2 linked regions of the Homo sapiens genome follow. The protein of the gene in region 1 purifies or fractionates together with the protein of each later gene. This does not show direct contact. Each region holds a gene or a part of one and is shown on either strand. Other genes may lie near its edges. The genes, in order: ZNF25 and HEMGN.

Evidence for each region.
Region 2: the proteins of ZNF25 (region 1) and HEMGN purify together in Homo sapiens (co-immunoprecipitation; one study listed by IntAct). This does not show direct contact.

What each region holds. Positions count from the first base shown.
Region 1 is NC_000010.11:37,952,409-37,956,237, reverse strand, and holds part of ZNF25 (zinc finger protein 25), read left to right. Parts: intron 1-2,479; coding exon 2,480-2,543; intron 2,544-3,042; coding exon 3,043-3,829. UniProt on the Homo sapiens protein: May be involved in transcriptional regulation.
Region 2 is NC_000009.12:97,927,883-97,931,711, reverse strand, and holds part of HEMGN (hemogen), read left to right. Parts: intron 1-490; coding exon 491-1,677; intron 1,678-3,829. UniProt on the Homo sapiens protein: Regulates the proliferation and differentiation of hematopoietic cells. Overexpression block the TPA-induced megakaryocytic differentiation in the K562 cell model. May also prevent cell apoptosis through the activation of the nuclear factor-kappa B (NF-kB).

The sequences.
Region 1 (3,829 bases):
CTGCTCATCAATTCTTTCATTTTGGAGTTGCTACTTCCTGCTATACAGTGTTTATCCTTCCCACAAAGCACTGCTTATCCTCCCTAAACTTATTTGGATAACACTAAGACAATCTCATCCTGCCTTCTTAAATGTTTGTCACGTATTTTCTAACTTGTGCACAGATGTGTTGCCAGTATCAGGAACAATGCCTAGTACATATTAGTTGCTCGCTAGATATTTGTTGAAAGAATGAATATTAATTAACAAGAGACTGGCTGGGAGTGGCGGCTCATGCCTGTAATCCCAGCACTTTGGGAGGCCAAAGTGGGTGGATCACTTGAGGCCCGAGTTCGAGACCAGCCTGGCCAACATGGTGAAACCCTGTCTCTACTAAAAATACAAAAATTAGCCGGGCTTGGTGGTGCACACCTGTAGTCCCAGCTATTCGGGAGGCTGAGGCTTAGGCATGAGAATTGCTTAAACCCAGGAAGCAGTGGTTACAGTGAGCCAAGATCGCCCCACTGCACTCCAGCCTGGACAACAGTGAGACTCATGTTCATGAAAAAAAGAAATAATAAATATATAAAATAATTAACAACAGACACTTTCTACTTTCTGCTCTGTTCCTTTTATTAACTCCTGTAGAAGCTCATCCATTCTTAAAGCCAATGCATTGGTTTTTATGATAAGGATTCCTAAAATTGACCTCTCCAGCATCTTTGCCCTATTTATATTCTGATCCCATATTTTTACCTTCTTGTAAGATAGTTCTGCTTATTCTACTTCCTTCCTTGTTAGGGTCAAAACAAAAATTGTTGATTTAAATTCCCACAGTAGTTGTGTAATGCAGCAGATGTACATTGCCAGAAGCCTGCATGGTATACTTAATACTGACTCAGTATTAAGTCCTTTAGACAAAATAAAAGTCTTACAAGGGTAAGGAGGTATTAGTAATATTCATTTAAATGAATTTTTTGTCAGGAACTAGTCTGGCCCTCTCTTGCCTATGCAACTTATTTCTCCTTGTGGCCCCCAAACACCTGTTAATCTCCATTTTACTATGCTCTTAAATGTTTTCCAAACATAAGATTTTTTTTTTTTTTATATGGAGTCTCACTCTGTTGCGCAGGCTGGCATGCAGTGGTGCGATCTCAGCTCACTGCAACCTCCACCTCCTGAGTTCAAGTGATTCTCCTGCCTCAGCCTCTTGAGTAGCTGGGATTACAGGTGCCCACAACCAGATCCAGCTAATTTTTGTATTTTTAGTAGAGGTGGGGTTTCACCATGTTGGTCAGGCTGGTCTCGAACTCCTGACCTCAGGTGATCCACCCACCTCAGCCTCTCAAAGTGCCGGGATTACAGGCATGAGCCACCGTTCCTGGCTTATACATATGATCTTATTTCATGTGTTCCTGAGTTAACGTCGCATAAGTCACTATGAAGTGACTTTTCTTATGTATTCCCCACCATTGCTATGAAATTCCAACCCCAAGCATCTGCTGATAATCTTTCACTTGCTTTCATGCATTTAAAGATGCATAAATATGAAGGTCACTAAAGATTCTAGAATGATGTTCAATAATTGGACCTTTAAAGATCCTGTAGTAAATTGGAAGCAGAGATGGAGGAAGCAAGATATGAAAATGAAATTCAAGACTAGTGTTGAGTCATGAGTAACAAGTGCGTTAGAAGTGCAGGATTTGATGGTCAGGATGAGTTCAGGATTGAAAATCTCTGGTGGTACAACTAGGAATTCATCCTTGTATAGATGGCTTATCCCAATGCTTTTAAGAAAATCCTTCCTTTTGGATATATGTGGTCCTCTGTCTTCCTGTCCTGAAAATAAAGCCAACTAGATGGAGAGTGAAAGCCCAAGCTACAGGACTCTTCCTCTAAGCATGAGGAAACTGATGTTCTGAAAAAGTCACTTTAGTAATTGACACCTAGATTGCTGTGGATGGATGAAGAGGAAATAAAGTAGAAGTTTGTCTGCTAAATGCTAGGAATCCTAGCACAGTAATCTAGGTTTGAGGGAATAAAGACCTATACTTCAGCTCCTTCTTTCAGTTTAATCTTTTCCATGTATTCCAGGGGACACTGTTGTCCAGTAGTTTTTCTTAACTTGCTTACTGTTCATGGTCCTTAAGGGGCTCACAGTATTCTCTATACTTCCCACACTCCCGTTCAGCAACACTTCGAATGTCCTATGTTCTCCTCTCCCGGTTCTTTTTTTGTCTTTAACTTTCACCTCCAAACTCTTATGGTCACATTTGTAAAAATGTCAGAGTACATGGGTCTACAAGTAGAATCCTCCTTCTGTGTGTGACAGCAGTTTTCAGTGTTTGTTTTAGGTTTTTTTCCCAAAACAATGGGCTAGAGGAAATTTGCATTTGAGGTTCTTTCATTATGAGAAATTGGCCTGAAGCCTAAGAATCAATGCTATGACAATATTAATGTGTAGTATTTATAAAGTATTACATTTTTGGTTCCCTTGTAGAAGACCTATGGAGCATTCATGATCTAGAAGCAAGATACCAGGAAAGCCAAGCTGGAAATTCAAGGCAAGTTCAAGAATTAATGTTTAAGATAGAAGATTTGTAAGCAAGAGTCTTAAAGGAGTTACTAGAAATGGGAGGGCACTAGTTAATACTAAACGTGAGAAAACTAACACTGCAGAGCAAATCCCAAGGAATATAATCCAAATGGGACTGCCCCTTTTCATAGAGACCTTGTGCAGGATCGGGAGATTGAAACTTTGAAGTGGTCTTTTTACTCTTCTGAATTAAGTAATGAAAGGGAGTCTCTATTACACAAAATAGAATGCAGGCAATTGAGAGACCCTGTGAATAGAATGCAAATGCAGATTCACCTTACCAAATGTTAAACTACAGTGCAGGTCAGAGAATGCTCACAGTGGAGAAACCCTATGGATCCAGTAAATATGGGAACATCTCTAGAAATCGGTCCTCAGAGGTACTTGGAAAATACGCCCAGTGGAGCAGGGGGAACAAAAAGCCTTAAAAGTCTTACACATTAATGAATGTGGAACTTTCTGTCTAGGAATGGAGAACTCACAAAACATCAGAAAACTCATACCACAGAGAAAGCCTGTGAATGTAAGGAATGTGGGAAGTTCTTCTGCCAGAAGTCTGCCCTCATAGTACATCAGCATACTCACTCAAAGGGCAAATCCTATGACTGTGATAAATGTGGGAAATCTTTCTCTAAAAATGAAGACCTCATAAGACATCAGAAAATTCACACGAGAGATAAAACCTATGAGTGTAAAGAATGTAAGAAAATATTTTACCACCTATCATCTCTCAGTAGACATCTGAGAACCCATGCAGGAGAGAAACCCTATGAATGTAATCAGTGTGAAAAATCCTTCTACCAGAAACCACATCTCACAGAACATCAGAAAACACACACAGGGGAGAAACCTTTTGAATGTACTGAATGTGGGAAGTTCTTCTATGTGAAGGCATACCTCATGGTACATCAGAAAACACACACAGGGGAGAAACCCTATGAGTGTAAGGAGTGTGGGAAAGCCTTTTCCCAGAAGTCACACCTCACAGTACATCAGAGAATGCACACAGGGGAGAAACCCTATAAATGTAAGGAATGTGGGAAATTCTTCTCTAGGAATTCACACCTCAAAACTCATCAGAGAAGTCACACAGGAGAGAAACCCTATGAATGTAAGGAATGTAGGAAATGCTTCTACCAGAAGTCAGCCCTCACAGTACATCAGCGAACTCACACAGGGGAGAAACCCTTTGAATGTAATAAATGTGGGAAAACATTTTACTATAAATCAGACCTCACTAAACATCAGAGAAAA
Region 2 (3,829 bases), on another chromosome or scaffold:
ATACAGCATCCACCTGCAGGCTGCACAGACGAGGAGCTGTGCCAGGTCTAGAAACTCGATTTGTATGAGTTTACTCAGGGGTAGGGAAGTAACACACAAAGACTAAATGCAAAGAGACTAGTGTATAAACCAGAATGCCACTCTATTAATTTGTAATGAGAATTATTTATTTTCCATAACAAAACTTTAAGAATATGCTATAACACACGCACGCACGCATACGCGCATGCACTACCCTCACCAAGAAGGCTCCTGGTAAGCATGGTATCAATGCCACGAAGTCCTGGAGAAACATTCCCTCTCCTAAGAATTGAGAACATCTAGAGCTGCTCCTTCATTTTACAAACAAGGAGATTGAGGCCCAGAGAGATTAAGTGACTAGTTCATGATACTTGTGCAATGAGGCAGTGGGGGACCTGGCACTGTTATTACAAGCATTTATTTGAATTCTGTAGTACCACTGCTGACACTAATTCTGTTCTTTCTGCAGAGAACAGAAAAAACGCAAGCAGCAGAGAACAGGAAAAGGAAATCGAAGAGGCAGAAAGAGACAACAAAACACAGAATTGAAGGTGGAGCCTCAGCCACAGATAGAAAAGGAAATAGTGGAGAAAGCACTGGCACCTATAGAGAAAAAAACTGAGCCACCTGGGAGCATAACCAAAGTATTTCCTTCAGTAGCCTCCCCGCAAAAAGTTGTGCCTGAGGAACACTTTTCTGAAATATGTCAAGAAAGTAACATATATCAGGAGAATTTTTCTGAGTACCAAGAAATAGCAGTACAAAACCATTCTTCTGAAACATGCCAACATGTGTCTGAACCTGAAGACCTCTCTCCTAAAATGTACCAAGAAATATCTGTACTTCAAGACAATTCTTCCAAAATATGCCAAGACATGAAGGAACCTGAAGACAACTCTCCTAACACATGCCAAGTAATATCTGTAATTCAAGACCATCCTTTCAAAATGTACCAAGATATGGCTAAACGAGAAGATCTGGCTCCTAAAATGTGCCAAGAAGCTGCTGTACCCAAAATCCTTCCTTGTCCAACATCTGAAGACACAGCTGATCTGGCAGGATGCTCTCTTCAAGCATATCCAAAACCAGATGTGCCTAAAGGCTATATTCTTGACACAGACCAAAATCCAGCAGAACCAGAGGAATACAATGAAACAGATCAAGGAATAGCTGAGACAGAAGGCCTTTTTCCTAAAATACAAGAAATAGCTGAGCCTAAAGACCTTTCTACAAAAACACACCAAGAATCAGCTGAACCTAAATACCTTCCTCATAAAACATGTAACGAAATTATTGTGCCTAAAGCCCCCTCTCATAAAACAATCCAAGAAACACCTCATTCTGAAGACTATTCAATTGAAATAAACCAAGAAACTCCTGGGTCTGAAAAATATTCACCTGAAACGTATCAAGAAATACCTGGGCTTGAAGAATATTCACCTGAAATATACCAAGAAACATCCCAGCTTGAAGAATATTCACCTGAAATATACCAAGAAACACCGGGGCCTGAAGACCTCTCTACTGAGACATATAAAAATAAGGATGTGCCTAAAGAATGCTTTCCAGAACCACACCAAGAAACAGGTGGGCCCCAAGGCCAGGATCCTAAAGCACACCAGGAAGATGCTAAAGATGCTTATACTTTTCCTCAAGGTAAGGGCTGTTTATAGCACCAAGGTAGGTACATCTCCCCCAGAGTAGTGATTTACAACTTTCTCTGACAATCCTGGGTATTCCCTGTTATTTCAATGGATACTGTGAATTTCATTGACTAGTTTTAAGTGAACAATATTTTCATGCAACCAACGTCTGTCTTGGCATATTTCAAAGAGTTAAAAAAATTGAAAATGCAAGCATGTACATTAAGTACTTATTCATACTATCCATCCATTATGAGATGCTATAGTCAGTGAAATGAACCCAATATAGGATGAATTATTGCAAAATATTTTTAAAAATTAAGTCTACATTAACAAGAAAGCTTGATGAATGAAGTTTTTCTAGGAAATTTAATTTGCCTGATAAATGGAAAGCAGGTAAATTCATAGTACGAAGTACTGAGGGAGATAAAAGCTGTAAAATATAATCCTGTTACTAGGGAATTCATTCTTGTAGGATTTATCAGGTTTACCAAAAACCCTTTCTATTTCAAGATTTGTTCCTGAAAAACTTTTTCCTAAGTATAGGAATTTGAAAATAATGCAACCTTTCTTTAATTTCACTTGCCTCAGAGACATAACTGAGAACTTCAGCTCTCTTTGTACAATACTGTAGACAGTATAAGAAATGGACTGAGTCTATCAGACCATAGTTATCCCCAGGAAACTGATTTCTAAAGAAATCCCTTTAGTAGTTTACTTGCTCTTTATCCTAAAAGATGAGTGCAACAAAAACATGGTGCTAGTTGGTTTCCAAGTAATACCAGTTTTGAAGAACTACTTTAAAGAAATACATTGCAGCAAAAGCAGGCATGTGAAGCAGTACGTGCACTGACAGGAGTACCCTGCTGGAGAAGCAGCTCTAACCAACACAGCGTCCTGATTCCTAACTGCTTCATTCTAAACCCAGCAAGGTCGATATGGTCAATTAATTAACGCTTATTTTATTTTTGGCTTTGTTTGACCAAATAAATGGGAATATCTATTTTTCCTGATTATAAAAGTAGTAAGTGTTCATTATAATAAAGCAATATGTAAGTGAATATCAAGTAAAGTAAAAGTCCCCTATAATACCATCTTCTATCTTCAGTTCCCAATGTTAAGGTTGTTTTGTTTCAACAAATGAGACAGTACCCATCCTATCCTGTAACTTGTTTTTGTTTTCATTTACAATATGTATTGCAGCCATCTTTATGATGTCTTTTGTAACAACTGCATAGTACTGTGCTATATGTATATTCAACCAGTCTCTATAAGGATGAACACTTAGGTTACTGCCAAGTTTTACTATTACAACAATGTTCAATGAACATCATTGGGAATAACATTTATTTAGTTAACATTTATCTGGTACTTTTCTATGTGCCAGACACCATATTAAATATTTTATGTGGTTTATTTTATTCAATGTTAAAAGCTCTACTGGATAAATAATACTCCCATTCTAAATATAAGGAAATGGAGGCACTGGAGGCTGAAGTTTGTCTGATTATTTCCTTTGAATCAACCCCTAGAAATCAAATTGTTGGGCCAAACGGTACCCAAATTTAAAGTTTGAATATACAGTCAGTCAGACTAGCCTCCAGAAATGTGGTAGCAATTCACACGAGACAGGTGCCTTTTCCCCACACCCTTGTCAGCACTGTACATTATGACATTTTAAAAATCCTTGTCTGTCTGCTAGGTTAAAAAATACACTTGATCGGCCGGGCGCGGTGGCTCACGCCTGTAATCCCAGCACGTTGGGAGGCCGAGGTGGGCGGATCACGAGGTCAGGAGATCGAGACCATTCTGGCTAACACGATGAAACCCCGTCTCTACTAAAATTACAAAAAATTAGCCGGGCGCGGTGGCGGGCGCCTGTAGTCCCAGCTACTCGGGAGGCTGAAGCAGGAGAATGGCGTGAACCCGGGAGGCGGAGCTTGCAGTGAGCAGAGATCGCGCCACTGCACTCCAGCCTGGGCGACAGAGCGAGACTCCGGCTCAAAAAAAAAAAAAAAAAAATACACTTGATCTTAGCCAAAAGGCTGAGAAGTGATAGGTTAAAAAATAAAACACACCTAATGGTCTTAATCACCCCCTTTTATAATTAATGTTACTAGACATCTTTTCAGGATTATTATAAATATAATTTTTTAAGAATTGCC